5 separate regions of the Homo sapiens genome follow, and regions 2, 3, 4 and 5 are each linked to region 1. The links come from fine-mapping of genetic effects on gene expression. A gene starts in region 1. Each other region holds a variant in brackets. All regions are shown on one strand. Distances are between the middles of the regions. Region 1 holds the start of THOC5 (THO complex subunit 5). Region 2 has its middle 6.2 kb from the start of NF2. Region 3 overlaps THOC5 (THO complex subunit 5). Region 4 overlaps THOC5 (THO complex subunit 5). Region 5 overlaps EMID1 (EMI domain containing 1).

Region 1 (6,408 bases):
ATGTGTGTCTCCATCTCAACACCCTAGGCCAGGCCCTCCACATTCCTCTCCAGGACTACTCTAACAGTCTTGCCCAACAATACTGTCTAAATTCTCTTTCTTAAAAAAGACCGACCTAATTAATGCCTCTCCTGTTTCAAAACCTTTGCTGGCTCTTCATAATGCACTGAATATCCATATTCCCTGACTTGTCATAAAGACCCTTGATGGTTTGTCCCCAACCTACCTTCCCAACTTCATTTCTTGCATTCCTATTCCTACCGACCTTCCCACTGTCCCCAACCTCTGCTCCTAGCTGCAACTGCACCCTGCAATCCCAGTTCCCCAAACACTCCATGTCTTTTCCCCTGCTTGCAAAGATCTTCCTTTTCCTCCCTATATCCTTCAAGACTAAGCAATGCTCATCTGCTCTAGGAAGCCTGTCAGGTCTCCCCAAAGCCCTCTTTTGGCTACTTTGGGTACACTATTAGGGAATTTATCTCTATGAATCATTTACCTGTCTTCCCACCTAGATTGTGAGCTCTACCCTCTTCCCCCTGAGCCTGGCAGAGTGCTCCATAAATTAGTATCCAAACTCCTCGGTCTGGCATTTAAAGACACTCCCAATACTACTGTGATCACTGTGTGCTGGGCCTTGATCTAACTACTTTATGGGTATGTTCTCATTTGCTCCTTATAACAAACTTTTCAGCTAAGAACTACCACCATTTCACAGATGACAAAACTGAGGCTCGCAAGGGGAATTACTTGCAAGTAATTGCGAGTCACATGACTAGTAGGCCAAAATCCGGATCTATCCAATCAATGCCATACTGGTGCTCTTAACTACACTTTTATGCCTCCTAGTCCTGCCAGCCTCTCATCTAGTGATGCCATTGACTCCCAGGTTGATCCTAGAATTTAAAGTATAGAACCTACATTTCATGGGGCTCTACAGTCACAAAGCATCCTCCCTTGTTGCCTCACCACAGCCTCCTGAGGTGGGCAGCACTGTCCCCTTTACCCTAATCCCTCTTGCTCTGTCACCCAAGCTGGAGTGCAGTGGCACAATCATCACTCACTGAAGCTTCCACATCCCCGACTTGAGGGAGCCAATAGTTTGTCACGGTAAAAGTCAGAGAGCCCTGAACTGGAATCTCCATTCTACTCTTTCATGGCTATGAGTCCCCGGACGAGTCACTTCACTTTTCTCTGGGTCTGATTCCTCACAAATCAAATGAGAATAACAGTCCCTACCACAGGGGTTGTTGTGGGCTTTAACACAGGAGGCATTCCACTGGGGAAGGTGATGAAGATGACCTGGGACTGTGGCTTCAGATGATGCATAGGTGATCTTAAATAATGCTGAACACCTAAGGAGAAAGTTAATCCCTTTTCAATTCTTATTTTGAAACTTCTGATTGCTTCAAGGAGAACATCTCAGTTCCCTAGTTTGTCTTTAACATCTATGAATGCCAATGTTCCTTTGTAACAAAAGAACTCTATCCCACAGCCTTAAACAACAAAATCTAGCCAGAGTTTGTTAACAATGATCTAGTTGCATTATATTAACTATATTAATTTTTACCTTCTACATAAAACAAGTGAAAGCAGCTTTCCATTTCTGGTGGAGAGATTTCAAGTTTTCTCTCAAAGTAAATTTGAGTTTAAAAAGTGACTTGGCTGGGCGCAGTGGCTCAGGCCTGTAATCCCAGCACTTTGGGAGGCTGAGGCGGGTGGATCACCTGAGGTCAGGAGTTTGAGACCAGCCTGGCCAACATGGTGAAACCCCGTCAGTACCACAAATACAAAAATTAGCCGGGAGTGGAGGCGGGCGCCTGTAATCTCAGCTACTCAGGAGGCTGAGGTAGGAGAATCACTTGAACCCAGGGAGCAGAGGTTGCAATGAGCCGAGATCGCAGCCACTTCACTCCAGCCTGGGCAACAGAGCGAGATTCAGTCTCAACAACAACAAAAAAAGTGACTGGGCCCAACACCATGGCTCACACCTGTAATCCCAACACTTTGGGAAACCAAGGCAAGCAGAGGTGAGAGAATCGCTTGAGCCCAGGCGTTCAAGACCAGAGTGGGCAACAGAGCGAGACCCCATCTTTAGAAAACATTTTAAAATTAGCCTAGTATGGCGGTGCACACCTGTGGTCCCAAGCTACTCTGGAGGCTAGGGTGGGAGGATGGCTTGAGCCCAGAAGTTCCAGGCTGCAGTGAGCTATGATCGCGCCACTGCACTCAGTCTTGACAACAGAGATCCCGTTGCAAAAAAAAAATTTGGACTGGATTAAAAATTTTTAGTAAACCCCTCCCCCTCCCCCCTCCCCCTCTCTCCACGGTCTCCCTCTGATGCCGAGCCGAAGCTGGACTGTACTGCGGCCATCTCGGCTCACTGGAACCTCTCTGCCTGATTCTCCTGCCTCAGCCTGCCGAGTGCCTGCAATTGCAGGCGCGCGCCGCCACGCCTGACTGGTTTTCGTATTTTTTGGTGGAGACGGGGTTTCGCTGTGTTGGCCAGGCTGGTCTCCAGCTCCTGACCGCGAGTGATCGGCCAGCCTCGGCCTCCCGAGGTGCCAGGATTGCAGACGGAGTCTCGTTCACTCAGTGCTCAATGGTGCCCAGGCTGGAGTGCAGTGGCGTGATCTCGGCTCGCTACAACCTCCACCTCCCAGCCGCCTGCCTTGGCCTCCCAAAGTGCCAAGATTGCAGCCTCTGCCCGGCCGCCACCCCGTCTGGGAAGTGAGGAGCGTCTCTGCCCGGCTGCCCATCATCTGGGATGTGAGGAGCCCCTCTGCCCGGCTGCCCAGTCTGGGAAGTGAGGAGCACCTCTTCCCGGACCCCATCCCGTCTAGGAAGTGAGGAGTGTCTCTGCCCGGCCGCCCATCATCTCAGATGTGGGGAGCACCTCTGCCCCGCCGCCCCGTCTGGGATGTGAGGAGCACCTCTGCCCGGCTGCGACCCCGTCTGGGAGGTGAGGAGCGTCTCTGCCCGGCTGCCCCGTCTGAGAGGTGAGGAGCCCCTCCACCCAGCAGCCGCCCCGTCCGGGAGGTGGGGGGCAGCCCCCGCCCGGCCAGCCGCCCCGTCCGGGGGGGAGGTGGGGGCCAGCCCCAGCCCGGCCAGCCGCCCCGTCGGGTCGGGGGTAGGGGGGCGCCTCCGCCTGGCCGCCACCCCGTCCGGGAGGTGGGGGGCGCCTCTGCCCGGCCGCCCCTTCTGGGAGGTGAGGAGCCCCTCTGCCTGGCCGCCACCCCGTCTGGGAGGTGTACCCAACAGCTCATTGAGAACGGGCCATGATGACGATGGCGGTTTTGTCTAGTAGAGAGGGGGGAAATGTGGGGAAAAGATAGAGAAATCGGATTGTTGCTGTGTCTGTGTGGAGAGAGGTGGACAAGGGAGACTCCATTTTGTTCTGTACTGAGAGAAATTCTTCTGCCTTGGGATGCTGTTGGTCTATAGCCTTACCCCCAACCCCGTGCTCTCTGAAACATGTGCTGTGTCCACTCAGGGTTAAATGGATTAAGGGCGGGGCAAGATGTGCTTTGTTAAACAGAAGCTTGAAGGCAGCATGCTCCTTAAGAGTCATCACCACTCCCTAATCTCAAGTACCCAGGGACACAAACACTGCGGAAGGCTGCAGGGTCCTCTGCCTAGGAAAACCAGAGACCTTTGTTCACTTGTTTATCTGCTGACCTTCCCTCCACTATTGTCCTATGACCCTGCCAAATCCCCTCTGCGAGAAACACCCAAGAATTATCAATAAATACTAAAACAAACAAACAAACAAATTTTTAATAAACGGTAGTAGAGGTGGTAAGTTGATCTGGCAAAGCCTACAAAGACCGGACCTGAAAGGCTTAAGTGTGGGAAATCCTGACTTTGGCAACACAGTAGAGTGCCTGGCACACCGAAGAGCACGATATATGTGAGCTGTTACCATCACCACCACCCCCACCCCCATCAGGCTACATTACCACAATCAAGAGGCTCCAACGTGAAGCCTGAGGATGCTGCAGCGAACACTTTTCGGATGAGGTAACAGCGCAGCGCCGAGAGGCCGGGGACCGCGGGTAGTGAGGGAGGAGAAGCCGGGTCAGACCCCAGCCCAGGGGCGCCCTTTGGGCGATCAGCACCTCAGTCCCGGAGCGCCCAGCCCCGCCCCATCTCCCAGCCCCACTGCCCTTGTCCCCTCCTCACCTCACAGCTCCAAGAACCTGGCACCGGGAGTAAGCCACTGCCGGAGGCGGAGCAAAGCTTGCCCGCGCACCATAGAGAACCGGAAGTAAGGAAGGGGCGGCCGACCGGAAGCGAGGCGTAGAGGCCGGAAGCTCAGCGCGGAGGCCCCCGAGGGAGGTGGTGGCGTGGTGAGACTGTAAAAACAAAGACACATGCTTCTCGTTCACTGTGCCCAGGGCCTAAGAGAGTGTCCAGCAGCTAGTGGGCGCTCCACCGAGTAGTTGAATTAATGTTGTGTTATGTCCAAGATAACACGAAAGAACCTGGTAGCGCGGCGGGGAAGATTTCGGCGCTAGAGGATTTGCCTGCATAACCTTACTTCTTAATTATTATTTTTACCATAATATGCCACGCCAGTGAAGGCAACAAGTCAGGGAGGGCATTAACCTCATTTTACACTTGGCTTTTTGAGGAGTGCATCACCAGTTTCTCCATTTTAGGCCTGACTTGCCCAGGACAGAGTCACAACTCTAACGCAGTATTTGAAAGCTTCAGGTATTTCCTACCCCTGGCATGAACTGTACAAACAAGGCCCAGGATTTTTTCGTGTAAATCCTCATCTGGAGCTAGTAACACGTGTCCTGAATCCCTGGTTGTACGGGGCCAGTTCCTTCTCCTTCCCAGGAGCAAGGAGGAAAATACTGGCTCTTTTTTATTTTTATTTTTATTTGAGACAGAGTTTTGCTCTCTCACCCAGGCTGAAGTGCAGTGGCGCAATCCCCGCTCACTGCAAACTCCGACTCCAGGGTTTAAAGGATTCTCCTGCCTCAGCCTCCTAAGTAGCTGGGATTACAGGCATGCACCACCATGCCCAGCTAATTTTTGTATTTTTAGTAGAGACAGGGTTTCACCATGTTGCCCAGGCTGGTCTTGAACTCCTGACCTCACTCAAGTGATCTGCCCACCTCGGACTTCCAAAATGCTGGGATTACAGGCGTGAGCCACTGCACCCAACCAGTACTGACTGTTGAGAATAGCTCAAGAACACAGTACCCTCCAGGAGGGTAGATCTGCCATGTGGGACTAAGCCCACCAGCTCTACTGTGCCCTGCCTCAGGCACCTGCTAAAGTTCCTTGCAGATGAAGAAAAGACACTGATTTATAGTAAATATTTAATTGTTTCCATCAGCAATTCCAGCACAAGTTTTCCTGGATGGTAGGCAGAATCAAGCTACCCAAGGGTTCATGATGAGGTATGGGGGTCACTGAGGAGACCCCCAGAGTCACTGACCCCTCCCGCCACCTCCACACACCAGGTGGCCCTGCAGAATGAGGGTTGGGCTGATAGAATGTCAATTAGGGGAGACAGGATACAGGGTGAGGGAACAGGGTCTAGCTTGTATATTTGCCTGCAGGAAGGAGGGAGGGCAGGAGAGACTCTGCATAGAAGGACTGGAACTACACATTTAAGTTTTCAACCCCAATATGCAGGGGGAAACAGCCAAGCCACTCTCCATCTGTCTAGTATTAGGAACCTCTCTTCAAGTGGTCTTTTGTCATCTCTGTTCTTCTTCCCAATTCTGTATTCCAGATTCCAAATTCTACAATTGAAACCCAAGTTCTGAATTCTAAGTTCTACCTTCCGAGTTCCTGTTACGTGTCTGTCTCCTGCCCCTAAATCTTTCCTGGCTCCCATCCCTTTCCCCAGCCCCTCTGGGCAGAATGTCTGAACCTCCTCCTGACCGTGGTGACGAGGTTTGTTTGTATTTGTTTTTTTGTTTTGGCAGTTCCAGGCTTTTCTCCAGCAGGAGGGACTTGGCTCAGACTGTCCAGCAAGTGGGTGGCCCAGTGGAAACCAGGGAATTCCTGAGGGCCTGGCCTGGCCTCCTCTCTTCCCACCCCACCTCTAGCCACTGGACATACTACCTTTTGTGCAACTAAGCTAAACAGAGGATTTCCAAGGGTGATAACTGGGGACTGGTGGCCTTGAGATGAGGAATTTTAGAAGATAAATGAAGGCCTAAAAGATCACTATCTTTCATTCAGGGAAATCAGAAACTACTTCTAGCAGGGGGAGGGAGGCAGGCAGGGAAAGTAGAAAGGGCCTGGGCAGAGCTGTAATCCTCAGAACTTGTCAGCCTTCAGTTCCCCCTTGTCTGAACTGAGCACTGCCCCTCAGAGTCCTCCCAGAGCCAAGACAAAACCAAGACAGCAGGACCAGGAGTGCCACTGTCTGTCGGGGTTGCCTGA
Region 2 (5,434 bases), 45 kb after region 1:
AGGCCGAGGCAGGTGGATTAATTGAGCCCAGGAGTTCAAGACCACATTGAGCAACATGGCAAAACCCTTCTCTACTGAAAATACAAAAATTAGCTGGGTGTGGTGGCACACGCCTGTAGTCCCAGCTACAAGGGAGGGCTGAGGCACAAGAATCCTTGAATCCAGGGAGGTGGAGCTGGCAGTGAGTAGCTGAGACTACATCCATGCACCGCCATGCCCAGCTAATTTATATTTTTAGTAGAGATGAGGTTTTGTCACATTGGCCAGGCTCTTCATCAACTCCTGAGTTCAGGCAATCCACCCACCTTGACCTCCCAAAGTGTTAAGAGTTACAGGCATGAGCCAGGCACCAGGCCTCAATGTTAATTTCTTGATTTTGATCATTGTATTACGATTAACTAAAATGTTAACATTAGAGGATGCTAAGTGAAGGATATAGAGAAACTCTACTATTTTTGCAGGTTTTAAGTCCAATATTAGGTCAAAATAAAAAGCTTATAAATTATACACATTAAAAAATACTTTGTTGGTGGGGCGCGGTAGCTCACGCCTGTAATCCCAGCACTTTGGGAGGCCGAAGCAGGCGGATCACTTGAGGTCAGGAGTTCGAGACTAGCCTGGTCAACATGGTGAAATCCTGTCTCTACTAAAAATACAAAAATTAGCCATGCGTGGTGGCAGGCACCTGTAATCCCAGCTACTCTGGAGGCTGAGACAGAATTGCTTGAACCTGGGAGGCGGAGGTTGCAGTGAGCCGAGATCGCGCCACTGCACTCCAGCCTGGGTGACAGACCAAGACTCCATCTCAAAAAACAAATTTGTTATGTAAGGTCTTGTCCCAAGAAGAATAAACAATAACAAAACCTTAAATAAGAGATCTATAACTGTGTAAAAAGAAATACAGCTAGTGCAACAATTAAATAGTAAGTGGGTAGGGAAAAATTCACTGTAAAGTAAGCAAGAGCAGCAAGAATAAAATAAAGCCAAAAATAAGGCAAGGTCAAGTACAATTGCCAGAGGCAGACATACAATTTGGCTCTGAGCTTCTTACCAGCAGGAAGGAAACTTGATTACTTGAGTTACAATGTGTGTAAGAGAAAAAAACTTAAAATTTACATCCATACATAAAGTCCTGTACATTTCTTAGAAAATTATATTATAAAATATTTAGTGACGGGTGAGGATATTAATGAATGAAAAATTAACAAATGGCCAGGCGTGGTGGCTCACGCCTGTAATCCCAGCACTTTGGGAGGCCGAGGTGGGTGAATCACAAGGTCCTGAGTTCAAGACCAACCAGGCCAAGATGGTGAAACCCCGTCTCTACTAAAACACAAAAATTAGCCGGGCGTGGTGGCGGGCACCTATAATCTCAGCTACTCGGGAGGCTGAGGCAGAGAACTGCTTGAACCCAGGAGGAGGAGGTTGCAGTGAGCCAAGATTGCGCCACTGCACTCCAGCCCAGCTAAGACTCCGTCTCAAAAAAAATAAAATTAACAAATCATAAAACAATAAGTAGTATGCGATAGCAGTGGGTCAGTGGATTATGCGAGTTAAATTTTTTTTTTTTTTTTGAGACGGAATCTCGCTCTGTCATCCAGGCTGGGGTGCAGTGGCGCGATCTCAGCTCACTGCAACTTCTGCTTCCTGGGTTCAAGCGATTCTCCTGCCTCAGCCACCCCAGTAGCTGGGACTATAAGCACGCACCACTGCGCTCAGCTAACTTTTGTATTTTTTTAAGACACAGGTTCTCACCATGTTGGTCAGGCTGCTCTCAAACTCCCGATCTGGTGATCCACCCGCCTCCGCCTCTCAAAATACTGGGATTACAGGAGTGAGCCACTGCGCTCAGCCCCAACAGTTGTTTTTCTTGGTCGGGCGAGGTGAGCTGGGTGACTCATACCTGTAACCCCAGCACTTTCGAATGCCAAGCTGGGAGGATCGCTTGAGGCCAGGAGTTTGAGACCAGCCTGGGCAACATAGCAAGATCCTTGTCTCTACAAAAAATTTTTTAAAAATTAGCATGGCATGGTGGTGCCTTTAGCCCCCGCTAATTGGGAGGCTGAGGTGCAAGGATCTCTTGACCCTAGGAACTCAGAGCCACAATTAGCTATGATCGTGTCACAGCAGCACTCCAGCTTGGGTGAGAGTGAGTTCCCATTTCTTTACCAAAAAATGTTTTTCTTTCTGGCTGCTTTCTATTGCTGTGCAATAAATTGCTATACATTTAGTGGCTTAAAGTAACATACAGGCCAAGCACAGTGGCTCGCATCTGTAATTCCAGCACTTTGGGAGGCTGAGACAGAAAAATGGCTTGAACCCCGGAGACCAGCCTGGGCAACATCACAAAACTGTCTCTACCAAAAAAAAAAAATTAACGTTGCGTGACGGTGCATGCCTGTAGTCCTGTGTCCGGGATTGGTGGGTTCTCAGTCTCACTGACTTCAAGAATGAAGCCGAG[G/A]ACCCTCATGTTGAGTGTCACAGTTCTTAAAGGCGACGTGTCCAAAGTTTGTTCCTTCTAATGTTCTGATGTGTTCCGCGTTTCTTCCTTCTGGTGGGTTCATGGTCACCGGCTCAGAAGTGAAACTCCACACTTCCGCAGTGACTGTTACAGCTCTTAAGGCGGCGCTTCTGGAGTTGTTCCTTTCTCCCGGTGGGTTCGTAGTCTCGCTGGCTTCAGGACTTAAGCTGCAGACCTTTGCAGGTAATATTACAGCTCATAAAAGCACTGTGGACCCAAACAAGGAGCAAACAAACAAAGCTCCCACAATATATGAAACAAGCTGCACAGGTTATCACTGCTAGCACCGGCAGCCTGCTTTTATTTTCTTATCTGGCCCCACCCACATCCTGCTGATTGGTCCATTTTACAGACAGCCGATTGGTCTGTTTTACAGAGAGCTGATTGGTCCATTTTGACAGGGTGCTGATTGGTGCGTTTACAATCCCTGAGCTAGACACGAAAGTTCTCCACCTCCCCACTAGATTAGCTAGATACAGAGTGTCTATTGGTGTATTTACAAACCCTGAGCTAGACATAGAGGGATGATTGGTGCATTTACAAACCTTGAGCTAGATACAGAGTGCCGATTTGTGCATTCCCCTTAGCTAGACATAAAGATTCTCCAAGTCCCCACCAGACTAGCTAGATAACAGAGTATGGAGTGGTGCATTCACAAACCCTGAGCTGGACACAGAGTGCTGATTGGTGTGCTTACAAACCTTGAGCTAGATACAGAGTGCTGATTGGTGTATTTACAATCCCTTGGCTAGACATAAAGGTTCTCCAAGTCCCCACCAGACTCAGGAGCCCAGCTGGCTTCACCCAGTGGATTCTGCACCGTGGCCGCAGATGGGGCTGCCTGCCAGTCCCCCGCCATGCGCCTGCACTCCTCAGCCGTCGGACGGTCGATGGGACTGGGCGCCCTGGAGCAGGGAGCGGCGCTCGTCGGGGAGGCTCCGGCTGCGCAGGAGCCCACGGCGGTGGCAGAGAGGTTCAGGCATGGCGGGCTGCAGGTCCCAAGCCCTTCTCCGCGGAGGGGCAGCTAAGACCGGCGAGAAATCGAGCACAGCAGCTGGTGGCCCAGGTGCTAAGCCCCTCACTGCCCGGGGCTTGCCGGCGGGCCGGCCGCTCTAAGTGCGGGGCCCGCTGAGCCCACGCCCACCCGCAATTCGCGCTGGCCCGCAAGCGCCGCGCGCAGCCCCAGTTCTTGCCCGTGCCTCTGCCTCTACACCTCCCCGCAAGCTGAGGGAGCCGGTTCCGGCCGTGGCCAGCCCAGAAAGGGACTCCCACAGTGCAGCGGCGGGCTGAAGGGCTCCTCAAGCGCGGCCAGAGTGGGTGCCAAGGCCGAGGAGGCACCGAGAGCGAGCGAGGGCTGCGAGGGCTGCCAGCATGACCTCACCTCTCAGTCCCAGCTACGCGGGAGGCTGAGGCGGAGGGATCACTTGATCCAGTGAAGGTCTAGGCTGAGCCATGATCTTGCCACTGCACTGCAGCCTGGGCGACAGAGCGAGACCTTGTCTCAGAAACAAACAAAAATCTCTGCTCTAGAGCACAGTTTCTTTATCTTGGCACTATTGACACTTTGACCTGGATAATTCTTTATTGTGGGGAGTTGTCCTGCGCATTGTGGAATGTTGAACGCCATCATTGGCTTTTACCCTTAGAGGCCAGGAACATCCCCCAGTTGTGACAACCAAAAAAGTCTCCAGACATTGCCAAATGTCCCCTGTAGGGCAGGGACCACTATCTGAGAAACACTGATCTGGAAGAGCAAAGTGTAAATCAGGAGAGATATGGATGAAACCACTCCTAGATGCAAATTGCAGCTCTACCAATCATGGCTGTGGGTAAATTACCTCTTTTCAGCCTTATTCAGTTTCCTCAGATATAAACTGAGGATATTACACCTACCAAATGTGGTTTTGAAAAAGGTCAAAATAGTCTGGGCGCGGTGGCTCATGTCTGTAATCCCAGCACTTTGGGAAGCTGAGGCGGGTGGATCACCTGAGGTCAGGAGTTCCAGACCAGCCTGGGCAACATGGTGAAACCCCGTCTCTACTAAAATACAAAAAATTATCTGGGCGTGGTGGCGCACCTGTAGTCCCACCTACTCTGGAGGCTGAGGCAGGAGAATTGCTTGGGCCCCAGAGGCAGAGGTTGCAGTGAGCCGAGATCGTGCCACTGCACCATAGCTTGGGCTACAGTGCAAGACTCCATGTCAAAAAAAAAAAAAAGAAGATCAAGATAAACAAAGCATGCAAAGCACTTTGCAGAGTGCTGTATATGGTAAGCATTTAAAATATGGTAGCTACTAATATTGTCCAGACCATAGTTGACACCGTAAGTATTTCTTTATGACCGTCACTCATTCATTCAACAGATATTTATTAACTGGGGTCTGTGTGCCAGATCATAATAAGCTCTATCTGAATTCCCCCTCAGACCCTTATCTGGTGCATATAATTATCATCTGTGTTTATTTATTTATTATTATTTTTTGTTTTGAGATGGATTTTCACTCTTGTTGCCCAGGCTAGAGTGCAATGACGCGATCTCGGCTCACTGCAACCTCTGCTTCCTGGGTTTAAGAGATTCTCCTGCCTCAGCCTCCCGACTAGCTGGGATTACAGGCACCCAGCACCAAGCCAGGCTAAGTTTTTGTATTTTTAGTAGAGACGGGAGTTTCACCATGTTGTCCAGGCTGGTCTTGAACTCCTGACCTCAGGTGATCCACCCACCTCGGCCTCCCAAATTGCTGGGATTAGAAGTGTGAGCCACTGTGCCTGGCCGTATTTATTCTTTTTTTTTTTTTTTTTTTTTTGAGACGGAGTCTCGCTCTGTTGCCCAGGCTGGAGTGCAGTGGCGCGATCTCGGCTCACTGCAAGCTCCACCTCCCGGGTTCACGCCATTCTCCTGCCTCAGCCTCCCGAG
Region 3 (6,408 bases), 44 kb before region 1:
CCTGCTAGGGGCAGGAATTTATTACTTAGCTCTTACTCTTAAAATCCTTATCCCTGGGATACTCAGTGGTCGGCAGAGAGACCTGGAGGAATAGCTTTTATACTGGAGGTCTGCATTATCCATGGAAAATCAGTAAAAGTCCACTTAGGGGGAATATGCTTATGATGGGAACCAAGCTTAACAGCATGTTGTGGGGGGATAAAGTTTCATCAGGACAATCACAAAAAATAAAATGTGTTTCCTCTTGGAGTTAGCAAACTATATCTGCAACTATGTAATAATTCTCAAATATTTTTACATTTCTACATCTTTTTTTTTTTTTCCAAGACGGAGTCTTGCTCTGTTGTCCAGATGGTGCAGTGGCACCATCTCGGCTCAGTGCAACCTCCGCCTCGGGGATTCAAGCAATTCTCCTGCCTCAGCCTCCCGAGTGGCTGGGATTACAGGCGCGCACCACCATGCCCAGCTAATTTTTGTATTTTTAGTAGAGACGGGGTTTCACCATGTTGGCCAGGCTGGTCTTGAACTCCTGATCTCAGGTGATCCGCCCACCAGCCTCCCAAAGTACTGATATTAAAGGCGTAAGCCACTGTGCCCAGCCCATCTTATTTTTTAAAATGAAGAATGGAGTACTGATGGTGGGGTCAAGATACACTTTTTGACAAAACTGTCCAAGAATAGTCTATGCCATCCTTTACTTTGACTTGCAGGAGTATTACAAAGGATGTAATTTTATGAACATTTTAAAGGTTGTTACCTATCTTCCCAAGACTTCTCTTAATCAAATAATTATATTTTGAGGCACTTTTGTCATTACCTTAAAGACTCTACTCAGGCCGGGTGTGGTGGCTCATGCCTATAATCCTAGCACTTTGGGAGGCCGAGGTGGGAGGATCATTTGAGCCCAGGAGTTTGAGACCAGCCTGGGAAAAATAGTGGGATCCCGCCTCTACAAAAAATTTAAAAATTAGCCAGAAATGGTGGCACACACCTGTGGTCCCAGCTACTTGGGAGGCTGAGGCAGGAGGATCACTTGAACCCAGGAGAGGTTGAGGCGGCAGTGAGCTGTGTTCGTGCCACTGCACTCCAGCCTGGACAACAGAGCAAGACCCTGTCTCAATAAAAAAAAAATATTCTCCTCAAATGTTACCTGGTCTCACTGTCCTGTATCTCTGTATGTGATTGATTCTCCAACACCACTCTCGCCATCTCCATGAAATCCTGTAAGACTTAGAATTACTCTCTGTGAAGTACAGTTGATCTCTGAACAATAGTTTGGACTCTGTGGGTCTATTATATGCAGATTTCTTTTTTTAAAATTTTTTAGAGATAGGGACTCGCATTGTTTCCCAGGCTGGAGTACAGTACAGGCACGATGAATAGCTCACTGCTACCTTGAACTCCTGGACTCCAGTCATCCGCCCACCTCAGCCTTCTGAGTAACTGGGACTATTGGTGCATACCACCACACCTGGCTGATTTTTAAATTTTTTGTAGATACAGGGTCTCTCACTACGTTGCCCAGGCTGGACCTGAACTCCTGGCCTCAAGGGATCCTCCCGCCTTAGCTTTCCAAAGTACTAGGATTACAGTCATGAGTCCCTGCACAGATTTTGTTCAATAAAAATAACAGTGGTGCCTGCCTCCCCCTCCACCTCCCCCACTTTTTCTGCCTCTGCCATCCCTGAGACACCAAGACCAACCCCTCCTCTTCCTTAGACTATTCAACCCTGAGACAGTATGTGAAGACCTTTATGGTGATCCACTTCTACTTAATAGTAGATATATATTTTCTTCCTTATGGCTTTCTTATTTATTTATTTTTGAGACGGAGTCTCACTCTCGCCCAAGCCGGAGCGCAGGAGCGTGATCTTGGCTTACTGCAACCTCTGCCTCATGGGTTCAAGTAATTCTGCCTCAGCCTCCTGAGTAACTGGGACTACAGGCATGCGCCACCACGCTTGGCTAATTTCCATGTTTTTAGTAGAGACAGGGTTTCACCATGTCGGCCAGGCTGGTCTCAAACTCCTGACCTCAAGTGATCCACCCGCCTTGGCCTCCCAAAGTGCTGGGATTACAGACGTGAGCCACTGCACTCAGGCCCCCTTGTGACTTTCCTTATAACATTTTCTTTTCTCTAGTTTACTGTATTGTAAGAATACAGTGTATAAGATACAAAATATATACTGAAAATATGTACTGACTATGTTAGCAGTAAGTAACTACTAATAGCATACTACTGGTCAACAGCAGGCTATTAGTTAAGTTTTTAGGGAGTCAAAAGTTATACACGGATTTTTCAACTGTGCAGGGCAGGGGGTGTTGGTGCCCCTAACCCCTGAGTTGTTCAAGGATCAACTGAGTTTGTCTTCTGTTTGCACTGCACTGTCAGACATTTATAACATCCAACGATCAGAGACAATTTGTCCATCGGCAACCCTGACAGGACTAATGGGAAGAGCGGGTGGGGAGGGAAGAGTTTTGCTTTTTGTGCTCTGCTGCCTTTGGCTTCTCCTACCACCTCTTAACAGCAGGAACTTGGGATAATAAATACAAGATCATGAGGACCTCACCCCGCAAAGCACAAATAGGGTGTGCGTAGACAAGAGGTGAGCATCTCTCTGCAGAATTGGAATCTTTTTCCACTCTGCTTTTATTGGCTGCTGAGAAAAAGTCTCTCTACAAATGCTTTTTCACACTGTGTCACAGCTCCCACCTGCCCTTCCAGACTGCAAAGCCACCTTGCCAGGAACCACAGACAAAGGCCACTGGTCAGGTGACGCTTTTTAATTGGCTGGTGTCTTTGGAGAATATCAAGAGTCACATGTGGGCCAGAGCAGAAAGCAGAAGCCCAGTGCTCAGGGTGAGGCCTTGGGGGAAACAACGGTCTGCG[C/A]GGGAGATCAGCGATGGCTGAAGAATCCCTGAGGATGGTTGTATTTAAATGGCTTCATCCTGCTAGGACCCCTAGAGAAATAGGAGAACGGAGTTGTTAATAACACACCTTCTAGGCTGATAAAATAAATTATGGTTCATTCACACAAGGGAAAAAGAAGAGGCAGAGTTACATGACACAGAATGTTGTTGAGAAAAGCATACGGCAGAACAACATATAAGGTGCGATACTATTTTTGTAAAAATGTCTTTTTGTGCTTGCAAATGAGTGAACACAAACTTGGAAAGGCCCTCACTGACAGTGGCACTTCGGGGACATAGCTTTAGGCACCCTCACTTTTTAGGATTGTTCCTTTTTTTATTTTTTGAGACGGAGTCTCTGTGTCGCCCAGGCTGGAGTGCAGTGGCGTGATCTCGGCTCACTGCAACCCCTGCTTCCCGGGTTCAAAGGATTTTTGTACCTCAGCCTCCCAAGTAGCTGGGATTACAGGCATGCACCACCACGCCCGGGTTTAGGTTGAGGTTTAGTTTAGGTTTTGCCATGTTGGCCAGGCTGGTGGAACTCCTGGCCTCAGGTCTCTTGCTGCCCATGCCAGCACTCTGCATCCTGGCCGGAGAGCCTTGCCTCTCACATCTACCGGCCATAGAGTTAACTGGATCTGAGTCACTGAAGGAGCACCTTCCCAGAATGCTGACAGAGGAGCTCAGCCTGGAGACACAACAAAGCCCTTCAAGAATGGGGTCCTTTGGCCGGGAGGTGGAGGTTGCAGTGAGCCGAGATCATGCTACTACACTCCAGCCTGGGCGACAGAGTGAGACTCTGTCTCAAAAAAAAAAAAAAAAAGAAAAAAGAAAAAGAAATGGGTCCTTTGGGAACCACTGGAGAAGAGGAAATCAATGCTGGCCATGTGAGAATTCCCACCCTGGCAATGTGCTAGAATGGGCTGGGCAGGTGAGAAGAGCAGAGGTCTCACACAAGCCCTCTAGGGAGAGAGCAAGTCCTAGAAGGTGCCAGCATCTGGCCACCAGCTCCACCTCCCAGCAGCCACTCAGAGCTGGAACTGGTTATTATGAGATAACATAATGAACCAGGCCAGTGGAGGTGTCAGATGAGGTGAAAGGATGCTGGGACTGCTTCTAGGGGCTAGAACTGGCTGTCTGAGAACAAGGTGAGGGAGAGGTAAGGCACTGTTTAGACTGACAGGGAACAGAGAACAAGGTGAGGGAGAGGTAAGGCACTGCTTAGACTGACAGGGAACAGAGAACAAGGTAAGGGAGAGGTAAGGCACTGCTTAGACTGACAGGGAACAGAGAACAAGGTGAGGGAGAGGTAAGGCACTGCTTAGACTGACAGGGAACAGAGAACAAGGTGAGGGAGAGGTAAGGCACTGCTTAGACTGACAGGGAACAGAGAACAAGGTGAGGGAGAGGTAAGGCACTGCTTAGACTGACAGGGAACAGAGAACAAGGTGAGGGAGAGATAAGGCACTGTGTAGACTGACAGGGAACAAGGGGGGATGTTCTGATTAGAAACAGATTATCACTCTTCTTCCTTCCCAAACACTGCTCCCCGCCAACCTCATGCAGAAGGGAAGGGATGCCTGAGCAGTGAAATCTGCAGTTTTGAAACTGACTCTTAAAAGAACATGAGTTAGAGGCTGAAAGGGAAATAAAGGACCCAAAATGAAAGAGAAAGGAAAAGTAGCTGGAAGTGCCATGAGCCCAGACACTCTTGAGTACCAAGCTGTCAGGAACTGCTGGCATTTTCCGAGTCCCAGTCCTGTGCCAGGACTTTATATGAATTACTTCTGCTTCATCATGAGCTAGAAGGTATTACTTTCACCATTTCTGTCTTTAGAAAATAGGGGTCAGGCACAATGGCTCATGCCTGTAATCCCAGCACTTTGGGAGGCTGAGACAAGCTGATCACTTGAGCCTAGGAGTTTGAGACCAGCCTGGCTAATATGGTGAAACCCCATCTCTACAAAAAAATTTAAAAATTAGTTGCGTGTGGCGGTGCATGTCTGTGGTCCCAGCTACTAGGGAGGCTGAGGCGGAAGGATCGTTTGAGCTCCAGAGGTCAAGACTGCAAGGCTACAGTGGGCTATGATCATGCTGCTGCACTCCAGTCTGGGCAAGAGAGTAAGACCGTGTCTCAAAGAAAAGGAAACAAACAAACAAAAAGCTGGAGGAGGGCTCAGAGCTAAGCAGAACTGACTCTTCTAAGGTCAGCAGCAAAACAGAGATCTGCACTCCTATCTGTTTTACTTTGAAGCTGGTTCCTTCTGTGCCACCTGACTGCCTAAGCTGTGATTCTCACTGACAGGACAGTACCCTAGAAAGACCACAGCAGACTCCCTGGGGACAGGCGAGGATGCACACAGTTTAAAAAGCTTATTTGGACACTAAAAAGCAAACAAACTCTATTGTTTTCCACAGAAAGTATAGAAAATAAAGTTCAGCCAAATCCTCTTGGCTCAGACCTGGCACTAACACCTTCAGGAGGTGTTAGTGAAAAACAGGTGGACCAGAGTGATAGGCATCGGCTGCAGGGGAAGTTTCAGGAAGGAAGAAGCAAGCTCTCCCCAGAAAATCTGGCTCTGATCTCTGTCCCACATCACCATGAGAAGTCACCAGAGCCCCAACCCTCTCCTCACCTGAAGAGCCGCAGACACATCTTCTCCTGGGGAAATTCCTTGGGCCCCTCCACACTGTCGTCATGGCTCTCGGTCTCCAGGTAAACATCCAGCAGCACACACAGCCGCTGCAGCTGGTTGGTCAACAGCTGGTGGCTGGGCCAAGGGCCACACAGCTCCTTGTAGCACACATTGACTTCGCCCTCCATGGCCTGTGTGATAGGAAAGCCAGCATCTCAGCACTACCTTCCTGCATGTGGGGGACCACACTGGCCAGGCTTCCGTCCCTGGATGGGCCCGAGCGCTGATGCCTCTGCAGGGGCTGGGCCAGGGGCTAGGCCATCAGATCAAGCTAGACTGGCTTGTCCTCAGGCCCCCTCATCAAGACAATGAGGTCTTCCTGATTCTGACCCATAGCTTTCCCTGCCTCATATGCCCACAGCCAGGAAAACAGAGGTGTGCAGGGAAGCAGTCTCAAAATAAGACCTAAGTCAGAAGATGTTGGTTAAAAACGTGTTCCATGGCATGTTTGACTTAGTAGCAGCAATGCTGATTAACAACTGCAATGCTGATTAACAGCTGCAATGCTGATTAACAACTGCAGTGATGTCATTCCTCATGTCATTCCAGTGCTTCTATAATGCTTCAGAGCTTATTCACATTTTTTATAGGAGCCCAAGCCAATAACCTTTCAAGGTAGGTATTTCTCCTTACTCTCTAAGTGGGGAAACCTGTGGACCCCAAGGTAGGCAAGTAGGTCTGGGCTCTTTCCTCTAGTACACCACACAAGCTCCAGCAAATTCTGCAAATCCTGGCACAACCTTCTGTTTTGGGAATTAAGGCAGTGCCCAAGTCCTCAGCTGCAGTGGGTTCTGCCACG
Region 4 (6,408 bases), 22 kb before region 1:
TTTGACTTGCTAGATTCAGAAAGAGGTATAGTTTTCTCAAGCTTCTGCCTTATGTGACTGGAGTTTTGTTGCTATGTTGTTACGGTTATGATTTAACAAAAAGAAACAAAGTCCATGCAAAACAATAAGGAAAAACAAAGCAATATGAAATGGGAATCCTTTGTTGGGCAAATGGGTGTTTGGCTCCCGGACCCTCTGCACCTGCAGCTGGGTGAACTCTTAGGTGCTACAGATCCCTTAAACAAGGTGAGTGCAACCAGACCTTTGCACTTCAGGTCGAGCATGACAGACAGTGGGTGCCTCTTCAGCATCTCCTTGCGTTTGTCGTCCAACTGAACCCCCAGTGTGGGTCTCCGGCGCTTCTGGACAAAGGAAAGTGCCAAGCTGATGAGCATCAGTCATAGCAATCTCCCCTTCCCTCTCCCAACCAGCCAGGCCTCAGCCCTACTGCCTGGCACCTGCTGCTTCAGCTAGCTGGGTTGTCAGACTCCCCTCCCAGCAGCACCTTCTTTCACACCTCTTCTGCTTCTAGGGAGGACGGCACCTGCGAACAAGCATGCCCCAGTGCATGCAGCTGCTTGATGCCCCCACAAGAGGAAATGGTTCTCACCGTAGTCTGCTCCTCCTCGGCATCTGAGTCACTCTCGTCATCTGCAGCCACAGAGAGAAGGCAGCTAGAGGTGAGGGGGCTCCAAATGCTCCCTAAAGCACTCCAACCCACATGGCATAAAGGGGCCCTGACTCTGTCTTTTGTAAATAAGTTTCTCTGTAATAAATAATAAATTAACTTGCTGCTTCTTATTCAGTATACAAAACATGGTGATGAAAAAAGAAAAAAGAAGAATGACGTATAACTCATTTTTTTCAAAGGGCTTTTTGATGTCATTTAGATGGAACACAAGCCCCTCCTTGTGATGGTGGTGGTGGCTGTGGTAATAATAGTAACACAAATAATAATAATAGTAGTAGAAGCATGCATAACTTGAGGGGGTACTATGTGCTGAGAATTATGCTAAAGGCTGTATGTGCATTACCTTATTTAATCCACATAACAATCCTACATGAGGTGTTACTATCTGTTTTCACAAAGGAATAAACTGAGGCTCTGAAATATTAAATACCTTCCTCGGGGTCAGTCAGCTAGTGAGTGGCAGGGCTGAAATCCACGGGCCGCACCTTGTGACTCCGGGAAGTGAGCTCTCTTTCCTGTCTACTCCAGGGTGCTAAGACATTCAAGTCAAGCTTCCTGCTACACAGAACTAGTCCAGCTAGTTCTCCAAAGACCAGGACTGCCCTTGGATGGTGACCTGGTGTCCCTGGGGGACGAATCCCAACCACCACATTACCTTGGGAGTCCTCTGGAGGTTTGAACAGAGCCTTGGCTTCATCCACACTGCCTTCGATTGCCACAGATAACGTCTTATCTGGGGGGCAAGAAGAAGTCTGTTAGGAAAGCTGCTGAGGAAAGCTGCTAAGCAGTGTGAGTAGGCCAGCTCTGGGGCTGCATTTCTCCCACCTCTGCCCAGCTCCTTGCTGACTAAGGGTGGAAGGGCAAAAGTCCTTGCTCCAGATGAAGGGAAACAAGGTGGGACACTTAAGCTTTTTTTTCCGTCATTTACTGAGAACAGAGAACTTAAGTACAAATTCCTAAACCAGCATCACCTGAAACTAGCAGTGAATGCCTCTCTTTTTTGGTGCACACCAAAGCACAGAAATTCAAACTGAGGGCCTAAAGCCACATGGAACTCCTCTGCCAGTTGTCTTAGAGGTTCTCACCCAGAAATCCACACCTGTCCACATCCCAGAAACAATGACTCTCACCTAAGTGCTTATTCTCTATTCTACACTATACCAAGCACATGGCTGCCATTGTCTCACTTAACTGGGAGGCAGTAGGACAGTGAATAGGAACTTGGATCTTGCAGTCCAGTTCCAGACCTGAGTCCCTGCCTAACCAATTCTCAAACACATGACCTGGAAAGTTATGTCACTGTCTGAGCCTCAGTTTCTGTATCTATGAAAAGGGGACTTGAAAAATAGTAGCTGCCGGGTGCAGTGGCTCACACCTGTAATCTCAGCACTTTGGGAGGCCGAGGCAGGTGGATCACCTGAGGTCAGGAGTTCAGAGACCAGCCTGGCCAACATGGCAAAATCCCGTCTGTACTAAAAATACAAAAATTAGCTGTGTGTGGTGGCATGTGCCTGTAACCCCATCTACTTGGGAGGCTGAGACAGGAGAATTGCTTGAATCCAGGAGGTGGAGGTTACTGTGAACCAAGATCATGCTACTGCACTGCAGCCTGGGCAACAGAGTGAGACTCTGTCTCAAAAAAAAAAGAAAAAAGAAAAACAGTAGCTGCCCCATTAGTGGTGGGGACTGAATGAGCTGATGCTTGTAATTTTAATTATAAAATTATTAAAAATTAATTTTTAGGCTGGGTGTGGTGGCTCATGTCTGGTTGGGAGGCCAAGGTGAGTGGATCACCTGAGATCAGGAGTTCGAGACCAGCCTGGCCAACATGGTGAAACTCTGTCTCTACTAAATATATAAAAATTAGCCAGGCACGGTGGTGGGTGCCTGTAATCCCAGCTACTTGGGAGGCTGAGGCAGGGAGAATTGCTTGAACCTGGGAAGCAGAGGTTGCAGTGAGCCAAGATCATGCCACTGCACTCCAGCCTGGGCAACAGAGCCAGACTCCATCTCAAAAAAAAAAATTTTTTTTAATACTCACAACAACCCTACAGGAGTAATACATTATAGCCATTTATAGATGAGAAACTTAAGGCTCAGAGAAGCTAGACATCACAGCTATAAGGCTGATAAACCAGGATTCAAGACCAGGTCTGTTCAACTTAAGCTTGGCCTCTCCAGCACATGAGCTAACAGCCTGTTGCATACACCAGGTATGACACCTCATTGAGTGATGTCTTGAGACCCCCTCTGAGGGTCTAGCGTTGTGAGGTCAGACAGGCCACCACCGTCCAACTCCATTCTTAAGGGTACATATGGTCCCAAGAGCCTGAAACGGTTTGCCTAGCCACACTAAGGAGGGATGGCAAACTTCCCCCAAGTGGCTGACCACTGCCTTATCTATGGCAACCCTATGTGAATCACCACCCTTCACCCCAAGCAACTAGTTGCTCCCATCAAGCACTGGCAAACAACAGACTATTTTTTTCAGCCATTTAATATTAGCATTCTACAAGAACATCAGAATGGAACAGGCCGATTTTAAACATAAAAGAAAAGAAAATTACTCACCCTGTCTAGGGGGCTGGGAGGATTTCATATGAGCTGATGATGGAAACAGGAGGGAGAACAAAGGGGAGGGGAGGACCAGAAGGACGAGGAAGACACAAGAAGAGACAGTAATGTGTTGGTGCCCAAGGTGGGAGGAGAAGCAAGCACTGGTGCGGTGTATGTCTGTCTGATGAGGTGGGGTGGGGTGGGGGAGAAAATGTAGGTGCTGGGTGAAAGCTGCATTAGGGCAAAAGGCAGAGTCTCCAAAATTTTCTCAAAACCCTAGCAGAGTCACAGGCTGCCCTCAAGCTTAATGAGGACATATCATCTAACCTGGAAATTCACAACAAAGACATGCAGCCTGATTCAAGGCATGGTGAAAGCCTGGGAGAGCTGGCTGAGACCTGTATTCACCAGGCACCCCCACCCTGAAGCAGAGCAAGAGGCACTGATCTAACTGCCAAGCGTGCCTTGATGGGGTGAGCACCTGGGAGCCCAGACAGGCTGCCTGGGTTCTGCACCCAAGAGCTGTCCAGCCAGGCTCACGAATGA[C/T]TCAAAGCCACCCATTGTGAAATACCCATCAGGTTAATCCAGCCTTAGGCCAGCTGGTCAGAGCAGCCATGCTGGGCAATGCAGAGGGAAGAAAGCTTCTGTCACCTGAGGGCTTCGGGCAGGACTGAGAAATTTCCTGAGCAGGTACTGCTTCCAACTGATTCACTCGGCCACAGCTGCTGCTCCCATAGCCCCTTGTCCTCACCCAGGCCCCATACTCACCACAGGCCTGCCCATACGCAGTGGCCTGAACAAAGAGGACATAGAGGGGAGGCGGCAGGTGTCTGGCTGTCTCATACTGCTTGTGAGCCTGGTCGAATGGCATAAACAGGTACTCCTGCACCGGAAGGGAAGCCTGCACACAAGAGACAGATTTTTGTTCTTCCTTTTTTAGCCAGTCCACACAGGAAAAAGTGGCTACTTAGTGACCGTAAATCATTATTTATAAAAGTGATACATGATAAACTAATAGAACTAATAGGTGGATAAAAGCTCAACGTAAACAAAATTATATTTCTTTATACTAGCAACAAACAGTAAGGAAATAAAATTGTTTTATTTTACCTACTGTCAGGGCACCCTGGCTCATGCCCATAGTCCCAGCACTTTGGGAGGCTGAGGCAGGAGGATCACTTGAGGCCAGGAGTTCAAGAGCAGCCTGGGTAACTTAGCGAGATGCCATTTCCACAAAAAATAAAAATCAATTTAAAAAAAGAAATTATAAAAAGATGCCATTTCAATACCATCAATAAAACATCAAATAAGAATAAACAGGCCGGGCATAGTGGCTCACGCCTGTAATCTCAGCACTTTGGGAGGCTGAGGCAGATGGATCACCTGAGGTCGGGAGATCAAGACCAGCCTGACGGACACAGAGAACCCCGTCTCTACTAAAAAAAATACAAAATTAGCTGGGCGTGGTGGCATATGCCTGTAATCCCAGCTACTCGGGAGGCTGAGGCAGGAGCATCACTTGAATCCAGGAAGTGGAGGTTGCGGTGAGCCGAGATCATGCCATTGCACTCCAGCCTGGGCAACAAGAGCAAAACTCTGTCTCAAAAAACAAACAAAAAATAATAAACAAGCAGGCTGGGTGCAGTGGCTCATGCCTGTAATCCCAGCACTTTGGGAGGCCGAGGCAGGTGGATCACCTGAGGTCAGGAGTTTGAGACCAGCCTGGCCAACATGGTGAAACCCAATCTCTGCTATAAATACAAAAATTGGCCAAGTGTGGGGGCACGCACCTGTAATCCCAGCTACTCCAGAGGCTGAGGCAGAAGAATTACTTGAACCTGGGAGACGGAGGTTGCAGTGAGCCAAGATTGTACCACTGCACTCCAGCCTGGGCAAGAGAGCAAGACCCTGCCTCAAAATAAAACAAAATAAAATAAACAAATGAAAGGCATATAAGCCTCTACACAAAAACCTGAGAAATGAAAAGTCTAAAATAAGTGGATACATGTGAATGTCAATGGCCTGGAAGACTCAAATATTGTCCAGGTAACAATTTATTCTAAAGTGGTCTGCAGATTCAATGCAATCCCTGTCAAAATCCCAGCAGGTGAAAACAGACAACCTGATTCTGAAACTTGTATGTAAATGCAAAGGGCCAAGAATAACCAAGACAATCCTGAAGAAATAGGTTGGAACTGTGCATCGAGACTTCTGATAAAGCCACAGTAAATAAGACAGTGTGATACTGTGCAAGGATGGACACAGAGATTATACACATATCCACATGTACAAAGACATTTGATTTGTAACAAAAGTGGCACTACAGAGCAGTGGAAAGAGAATGTCTTCAATAAATGGTCAGCTAAATACCTATGTGGAAAGAAAAAATGAATCTTTACCCTTAACTAACAAAATCACTTCCAGGATGACAACAGATTTAAATAGAAAGATTTCTTAAACAAGACACAAAAAAAGTACTAACCATAAAGGAAAAGAATAATTAGTAAAATTAGGAACATGCACTCATTAAAAGATACCATTAGCAAAGTGAAAAGGCAGGAGGTTACAGAATGGGGAAGACCTGGGAAAAAACTCATCTCCAGGCAACCCAACAGAAAACAGGCAAAAGACTTGCCTAGACCCATCACAAGAGGTTATCCAAAAGGCAAAATGTGCTGTGTTCAACATCACTAGTCCTCAGGGAAATAAAAATTAAAACTATAATGAGATACCCTCCAGAGTAGCCAAAATTAAGGAGACTGACAGTATAAAGTGTTGACAAGGATGTAAAACAATTAGAACTTGCATATGGTGCTGGTGGGAATTTCTGTAAATCGGTACAACCAGTTTAGAAAACTGTTTCAGTGTCTACAAAAGCTAAATATATGTATAACATACTGTATGACCTAGAATTTCATTCCTGGGTATATATTCAACAGACAGATGTACACATGTATGCCAAAACACATGTATAAGAATGCTCATAGCAGCATTATTGAAATGGCCCTAAACCGGAAACAACCAATTACTAAACATCAATGAAAACAAACTCTTGTACTCACAATAGCACAGATGAATCTTAGAAACATACTGCTGAACAAAAGAAGCCAGACATAGGAGTATATACTATGATTCTCTTTGTATAGAGTTCAAAAATAGGC
Region 5 (6,408 bases), 320 kb before region 1:
ACTGAAGGGTTCTGAGGGGAAGCCTAGGACCCTTGGCCCTGGCCCCAGCTTCCTCCCTCCCCGCAGGTTGTCTCAACTGCAGCAAAGTGTCAGAGCTGACAGAGCGGCTGAAGGTGCTGGAGGCCAAGGTGGGTGAGCAGCTCCCTCCTGGGTGGTTGTTCCCTGCCACAGGCCAGTCCAGGCAACCACCATCCCACCCTCCCCACCTCCTTCCCCGCACCCCATGCTCGCACCCTCAGTGAACCCACAGGGCAGCTCTGAACTGACTCGGCGAGCAGCATCCCCTGTCAGGCATGTCATGGTCTCCTCCAGTGTCCCTCCCTAGGAAGCCTGCTCACAGGTCGTGCCTCAGTTTTCCCACCTGTCAAGCGGAGGGGATACTAGCATCCACTCAGGGAAAACTGTATATGTGAAGCGCAAGTCACAGCCAGCCTGGCCTGTTCTTCCTCCAGGAGGCCTGTGAGCTCCCTCCCATGGGGCTCCATCACCATCCCCACCAGATCAGCATAGACACTGCCCAGAGATCCTGGTAGGATCTCCTGCCTGCCCCTGCCCCATCCCCTTTCTCTATCCCCCCAACCCCCATCCATAATACTATCTTCCTGGTTTCAAAAACAAAACATCTATCACACATCTCAAATTATTTCAAGATAAAATGTTGTGTATTTTTTGTTTTGTTTTGTTTGAAACAGGGTCTTCCTCTGTTGCCCAGGCTGGAGTGCAGTGGCGAGATCTCAGCTCACTGCAACCTATGCCTCCTGGGCTCAAATGATCCTCCCACCTCAGCCTCCTGAGTAGCTGGGACCATAGGTGAACAATACCACATCCAGCTAATTTTTAAATTTTTGGTAGAGATGGGGTTTCTCCATGTTGCCCAGGCTGGTCTTGAACTTCTAAGCTCAAGCAATTCACTGTCTTGGCCTCCCAAAGTGCTGGGATTACAGGTGTGAGCCGCTGCGCTGCCATAAAACTTTTTTTTTTTTTTAAATTAAAAAGTACTGCTTGGCGCAGCGGCTCACACCTGTAATCTCCATACTTTAGGAGGCCGAGGCAGGTGGATTGCTTGAGGCCAAGAGTTCGAGACCATTCTGGCCAACATGGCATAACCCTGTCTCTTTTAAAAATACAAAAATTAGCCTGGCATGGTGGCACACACCCATAATCCCAGCTACAAAGGAGGCTGAGGCTTGAGGATCACTTGAACCTGGGAGGTGGAGGTTGTAGTGAGCCAAGATTGCGCCACTGTATTCCAGCCTGGGTAACAGAGCGAGACTCTGTCTCAAAAAAAAAAAAAAAAAAAAAAACAAATTAGGCCAGGCGCAGTGGCTCATGCCTGTAATCTCAGCATTTGAGAGGCCGAGCCGGGTGGATCACAAGGTCAGGAGTTCAAGACCAGCCTGGCTAAGATGGTGAAACCTCATCTTTACTAAAAATACAAAAAATTAGCCGGGGCCGAGTGCCGTGGCTCACGCCTGTAATCACAGCACTTTGGGAGGTCAAGGAGGGCGGATCACCTGAGGTCAAGAGTTCAAGACCAGCCTGACCAACTTGGAGAAACCCCATCTCTACTAAAAATACAAAAATTAGCCGGGCATGGTGGCGCATGCCTGTAATCCCAGCTACTCGGGAGGCTGAGGCAGGAGAATCGCTTGAACCCGGGAGGCAGAGGTTGCAGTGAGCCGAGATTGTGCCATTGCACTCCAGCCTGGGCAACAAGAACGAAACTCCATCTCAAAAAAAAAAAAAAAAAAAAATGAGCCGAGTGTGGTGGCAGGTACCTGTAATCCCAGCTACTTGGGAGGCTGAGGCAGAGAATTGCTTGAACCCAGGAGGCAGAGGTTGCAGTGAGCCGAGATTGCACCACTGCTCTCCACCCTGGACGACAGAGCGAGACTCCGTCTCAAGAAAAAAAAAAGTAATTAATTAATTAATTTAAATTAAAAAGTACAACATTCTAAATTTAGAAACATGAAAAATTCAGAAATGTGAAAAAACAGCCAGCAAACCATTCACAGCAGTTGCCCATGCCCCCAAAGAATGCAACTGTCGACACTTAAGCATCCTTTCTTCCAGATTTTCTAAACACACAGACATGCATACACTTTAGTGCCATTCTTTGCTCCATCATTCCCTTCTCTGGAAATTTATCTTTTGTTTGTTCGTTTTGTTTTGATTCAGAAACAGGGTCTTGCTCTGTCACCCAGGCTGGAGTGCAGGCATTGCAATCTGCCGTGAGTTGGAGCTCACTGCAGCCTCCAATTCCTGGGCTCAAGCTATCCTCCTGCCCCAACCTCCTGAGTAGCTGGCATTACGGACATGTGCCACCACACCTGGCTAGTTTAAAAAACTTTTTTTAGAGCTGGGGTCTTGCTATGTTTCCTAAACTGGTCCTGAACTCTTGGCCTCAAGGAATCCTCCTGCCTCAGCCTCCAGGAGTGTTGGGATTACAGATGTGAGCCATTGTGCCCAGCCTGGGAACTTAATGAGATTATCAGATGCAAAAATGTTTACCAATAGAGAAATTTGAAAACCAGGCAAAAGAAGGCATGGTTGTATAATTGTGGAGAATTCATTCTATGGGGCATTCAGCAGCCATTTACAATACTTCCCTTCCCTAATATGAAAAGATTTCTCTAGGCTGGGCATGGTGGCTCACACCTGTAATCCCAGCACTTTGGAAGGCCGAAGCAGGAGGATTGCTTGAGGCCTGGAGCCCGAGACCAGCCTGGGCAACATAGCAAGACTCCATCTCTACAAAAAATTAGCTAGGCTTAGTGGCACACAGCTGGCACACAGTCCCAGCTGCTTAAGAGGCTGAGGCAGGAGGATCACTTGAGCTCAGACGGACAAGGCTGCAGTGAGTCGTGATAGCACCACTGCACTCTAGCCTGGACGGCAGAGCTAGACCCTGTCTCTAAAATTAAAAAAAAGAAGATGCCGCTGGGCGCGGTGGCTCATGCCTGTAATCCCAGCACTTTGGGAAGCTGAGGCGGGCGGATCACATGAGGTCAGGAGTTCGAGACCAGCCTGACCAACATGGAGAAACCCCATCTCTACTAAAAGTACAAAATTAGCCAGGCTTGGTGGCGCATGCCTGTAATCTCAGCTACTAGGGAGGCCGAGGCAGGAGAATTGCTTGAACCTGGGAGGCGGAGGTTGCGGTGAGCCAAGATCACGCCATTGCACTCCAGCCTGGGCAACAAGAGCAAAACTCCACCTCAAAAAAAAAAAAAAAAGAAGATGCCCCTGATTTATCAAATGGGAAAACCAAGCTTCCAAATAGCGTGTGCTGGCACCTGAGTTACAAGGCACGGGGTTCCAGGAGCAGTTCCCTGAGCTCCCTCCCAGGAGAAGCCCATGTAAGAGGCAACTCAGTCCCACATCTTGATGGGAATTCCTGGTTCAGGATCTGCCAGAGAGTTTCAGCTTTTCTCTGGACAGGCCCCCACGATCCCTGAGCCCCTGATCTGTGGTCATCTGGCCTTTCGTTGGTCCTCAGCAGCTGAGGGGACACTTCCAGCTTCCCAGAGTCT[T/C]CCTCACCATGGGCCCAAAAGTGGACTTTGTGTACACCTCCAGGTTTCTATTTCATGTCAGACTCTTCCAAACTTCCTTCCAAATTTAGTGAAAGGCCGGGAGTGGTGGCTCACGCCTGTAATCCCAACACTTTGGGAGGCTGAGATAAGCAGATCACTTCAGGTCAGGAGTTTGAGACCAGCCTGGCCAATGTGGTCAAACCCCATCTCTACTAAAAATACAAAAATTAGCTAGGTGTGGTGGCGCATGACTGTAATCCCAGTTACTCTGGAGGCTGAGGCAGGAGAATCACTTGAACCCGGGAGGCGGAGGTTGCAGTGAGCCGAGATCGTGCCACTACACTCCAGCCTGGGCAACAGAGCAAGGCTCTCCATCTTGGAAAAAAAAAAAACAAAAAAACAAACTAAGTGAAACTCTTCCAGCCATACCCTGTGGTGCTTTAAGAAATCAAGACAAGCTTCTTATTTGGATAACCATAGAGAAAAAGCACATGGCCCAGCAAGCACCGCGACAGTCACAAAGCTCAACTTTGATGGCAATGATGGTGTCAGTGACTTTTCCATAATGCGTGTTATGAATTGTGTGCTTTGAAAAACACTGTCACTTCTGATGAAGTTCGGTGCCCCTGCGAGCCTGGGGCTCCACTCCAAGCTGGGCCCTGCTGGCCATGTGCCTCCTGCCTCCCACACCAGGCCCCTTGGCTGGCCTGTCCGTGGTGAGACCCTGGCTCATGCCTGTAATCCCAACACTTTGGGAGGCTGAGGCAAGATGATTGCTTGAGCCCAGGAGTTCAAGACCAGCCTGGGCAACATAGCGAGACCTCGTCTCTACAAATAATTTTTTTTTAAATTTGCCATGTGTGGTGGTGCATCCCTGTGGTCCCAGCTACTTGGAAGGCTGAGGCAGAAGGATCGCTTAAGCCCGGGTGGTTGAGGCTGCATGAGCCGTCATAGTACTACTGCATTCTAGCCTGGGCAACAGAGCAAAACTCCATCTCAAAAAAAATAGGGAGGGGTCCTAGTGAGACCCTGGTACCCACCCCGTCCCTGTCTTCCTCTTCAGATGACCATGCTGACTGTCATAGAGCAGCCAGTACCTCCAACACCAGCTACCCCTGAGGACCCTGCCCCGCTCTGGGGTCCCCCTCCTGCCCAGGGCAGCCCCGGAGATGGAGGCCTCCAGGGTGAGTGTCAGACTCAGACTCCCCTGTGGGAATGAGCAGTGGGTTGGGAATCGGGGAAGTGGGATTCTGGTCCCCACCCTGTCGCTGACTCCCAACTTAACCCTCTAGTGGGCCTCAGTCTTCCCATTTCCCGTTTCTTAGACCCGCCTAAGAGGACCGTCTCCTGGGACTCCTGAATGCTGCAGTCCCTGGAGACCAAGCAGCCCCAGCAGACCCTGCCTGGAGGTCGGGGGGAGCTGGGAGTGGGGATTCTGGATGAGCCTCCCTCCTCCAGGCCCAGCAGGGACACTGACCTCTGCCTACCCCCCCCACCCCAGGGCTGCCAGGAGCCATAGAGAGTGTGAGGGTCCCGCTGCTTCCCCGAAATGGTAGATGCTGGTTGGGGGGCTGGGGCCAGGGTGGGGGTCAAGAGCAGATGTGGAGCTGCCAGTCTGATATGCTTTACCCCCCAGACCAAGTCGGTGCTTGGGGGCTTCCCGGGCCCACCGGCCCCAAGGGAGATGCCGGCAGTCGGGGCCCAATGGGGATGAGAGGCCCACCAGGTGAGTGCCCGCAATGCTGCCCCACAGCTCCTCTGGCCATCCCCTCCACCAGGTGGGCCCTTCCCTGCTCCTGACATGGCCAGGATGACCTGGGCCCTTTCATCTACTTGCCTCTTCACTCAGCACCCCACCACGGAGTGCCCTGCCCACGCCTGGGCTCCATGAAGTCCTCTCTTATGTTCACTGACCCACATTCCCTGGGCACCTACACTTATCAGGCTCTGAGCTGGGCACTGGGTGGGGTCAGACATGTCCCTGCCCTTCTGGAGCTTCCATGCTGCTGGGAGCAGGGCTGGGCAGAGGAGAAGCAGCAATGCTTGCCCCATGTGACCAGGGTTTCTATGAGGGGTTTTGGGGGTTTGGGAGCCCCAAGGAAGGAAGACTCAGCCTGGACGAGGTGGAGAACTAGGTGCTGTGCTCATCCCCCTGTTAGACTACCAGGCAGCCTAGGCCTGTGGACTCCGGGGCCCTCTCTCATGCCCACTGCTCCAGGCTGCCTTGTCCTGTCGCTCAAGGCCACCCTGGGCCTCCTTGCCTCCTGTATACCCACAAATCCGTGTGATTCCATTGCAGGTCCACAGGGCCCCCCAGGGAGCCCTGGCCGGGCTGGAGCTGTGGGCACCCCTGGAGAGAGGGGACCTCCTGGGCCACCAGGGCCTCCTGGCCCCCCTGGGCCCCCAGCCCCTGTTGGGCCACCCCATGCCCGGATCTCCCAGCATGGTGAGTCCCCCTGGGATCCCAGCAGGTGGAGGTGGGGGTGGAGTAGCCATCAGCACAGTGCCCGCTACCATCTGCCACGTGCCTTCTGTGTGCCAGCCCTGCTCACGATAGGCCACATGTGACCCAGTCCTCCAGCAGGCGCCGTTGTCCTCCTGTGGTTACAGGTGAGGAACACTGAGGACCAGAGAGGGAAGGTGGCTTGCCAGGGTCCCACAGCCTGGGCGTAGGGGAACGGCTTCAAACCCAGGCTGCCTCCAGAACCTGTGCTTAGAGCCACCGGGCATCAGGCCCTCCCAAGCCTTGGAACTGGCTGGAATCCAGTTCTCGGAACACTGGGACGCAAAAGACCCGGCGGCAGGAAGTGAGTCCTGAACTCCCAAGGCCACAGGCCCGGCCCCTCCTCCAGGCCCTGACGTGCGTCCTTGGCTT

What was found.
Region 2: its variant is fine-mapped to the expression of THOC5 in whole blood (TOPMed, PIP above 0.99).
Region 3: its variant is fine-mapped to the expression of THOC5 in whole blood (INTERVAL, PIP 0.95).
Region 4: its variant is fine-mapped to the expression of THOC5 in subcutaneous fat (GTEx, PIP above 0.99). The same link has a PIP of 0.9 or more in aorta, breast, thyroid and tibial artery.
Region 5: its variant is fine-mapped to the expression of THOC5 in whole blood (TOPMed, PIP 0.94).

What each region holds. Positions count from the first base shown.
Region 1 is chr22:29,549,492-29,555,899 of GRCh38, forward strand. THOC5 (THO complex subunit 5) reads right to left here and starts at 4,266. Exons shown (of 20, transcript NM_003678.5): 1 at 4,180-4,266. NIPSNAP1 (nipsnap homolog 1) reads right to left here. Exons shown (of 10, transcript NM_003634.4): 10 at 5,317-6,408. RefSeq lists enhancers at 2,389-3,088, 4,486-5,183, 4,567-4,636 and a silencer at 3,977-4,166.
Region 2 is chr22:29,594,679-29,600,112 of GRCh38, forward strand. No RefSeq gene overlaps it. Among named protein-coding and RNA genes, the nearest start is that of NF2, 6.2 kb to the right of the region's middle. The variant G/A (reference allele first, on the strand shown) is at 2,462.
Region 3 is chr22:29,505,557-29,511,964 of GRCh38, forward strand. It overlaps THOC5 (THO complex subunit 5), which reads right to left. Exons shown (of 20, transcript NM_003678.5): 19 at 5,550-5,740; 20 at 323-2,964. The coding sequence ends at 2,901. Among named protein-coding and RNA genes, the nearest start is that of NEFH, 29 kb to the left of the region's middle. The variant C/A (reference allele first, on the strand shown) is at 2,894.
Region 4 is chr22:29,527,816-29,534,223 of GRCh38, forward strand. THOC5 (THO complex subunit 5) reads right to left here. Exons shown (of 20, transcript NM_003678.5): 8 at 4,016-4,148; 9 at 1,347-1,424; 10 at 611-651; 11 at 263-362. Among named protein-coding and RNA genes, the nearest start is that of THOC5, 23 kb to the right of the region's middle. The variant C/T (reference allele first, on the strand shown) is at 3,794.
Region 5 is chr22:29,226,424-29,232,831 of GRCh38, forward strand. It overlaps EMID1 (EMI domain containing 1), which reads left to right. Exons shown (of 15, transcript NM_133455.4): 5 at 67-128; 6 at 4,597-4,717; 7 at 5,170-5,259; 8 at 5,833-5,979. Among named protein-coding and RNA genes, the nearest start is that of EMID1, 24 kb to the left of the region's middle. The variant T/C (reference allele first, on the strand shown) is at 3,534.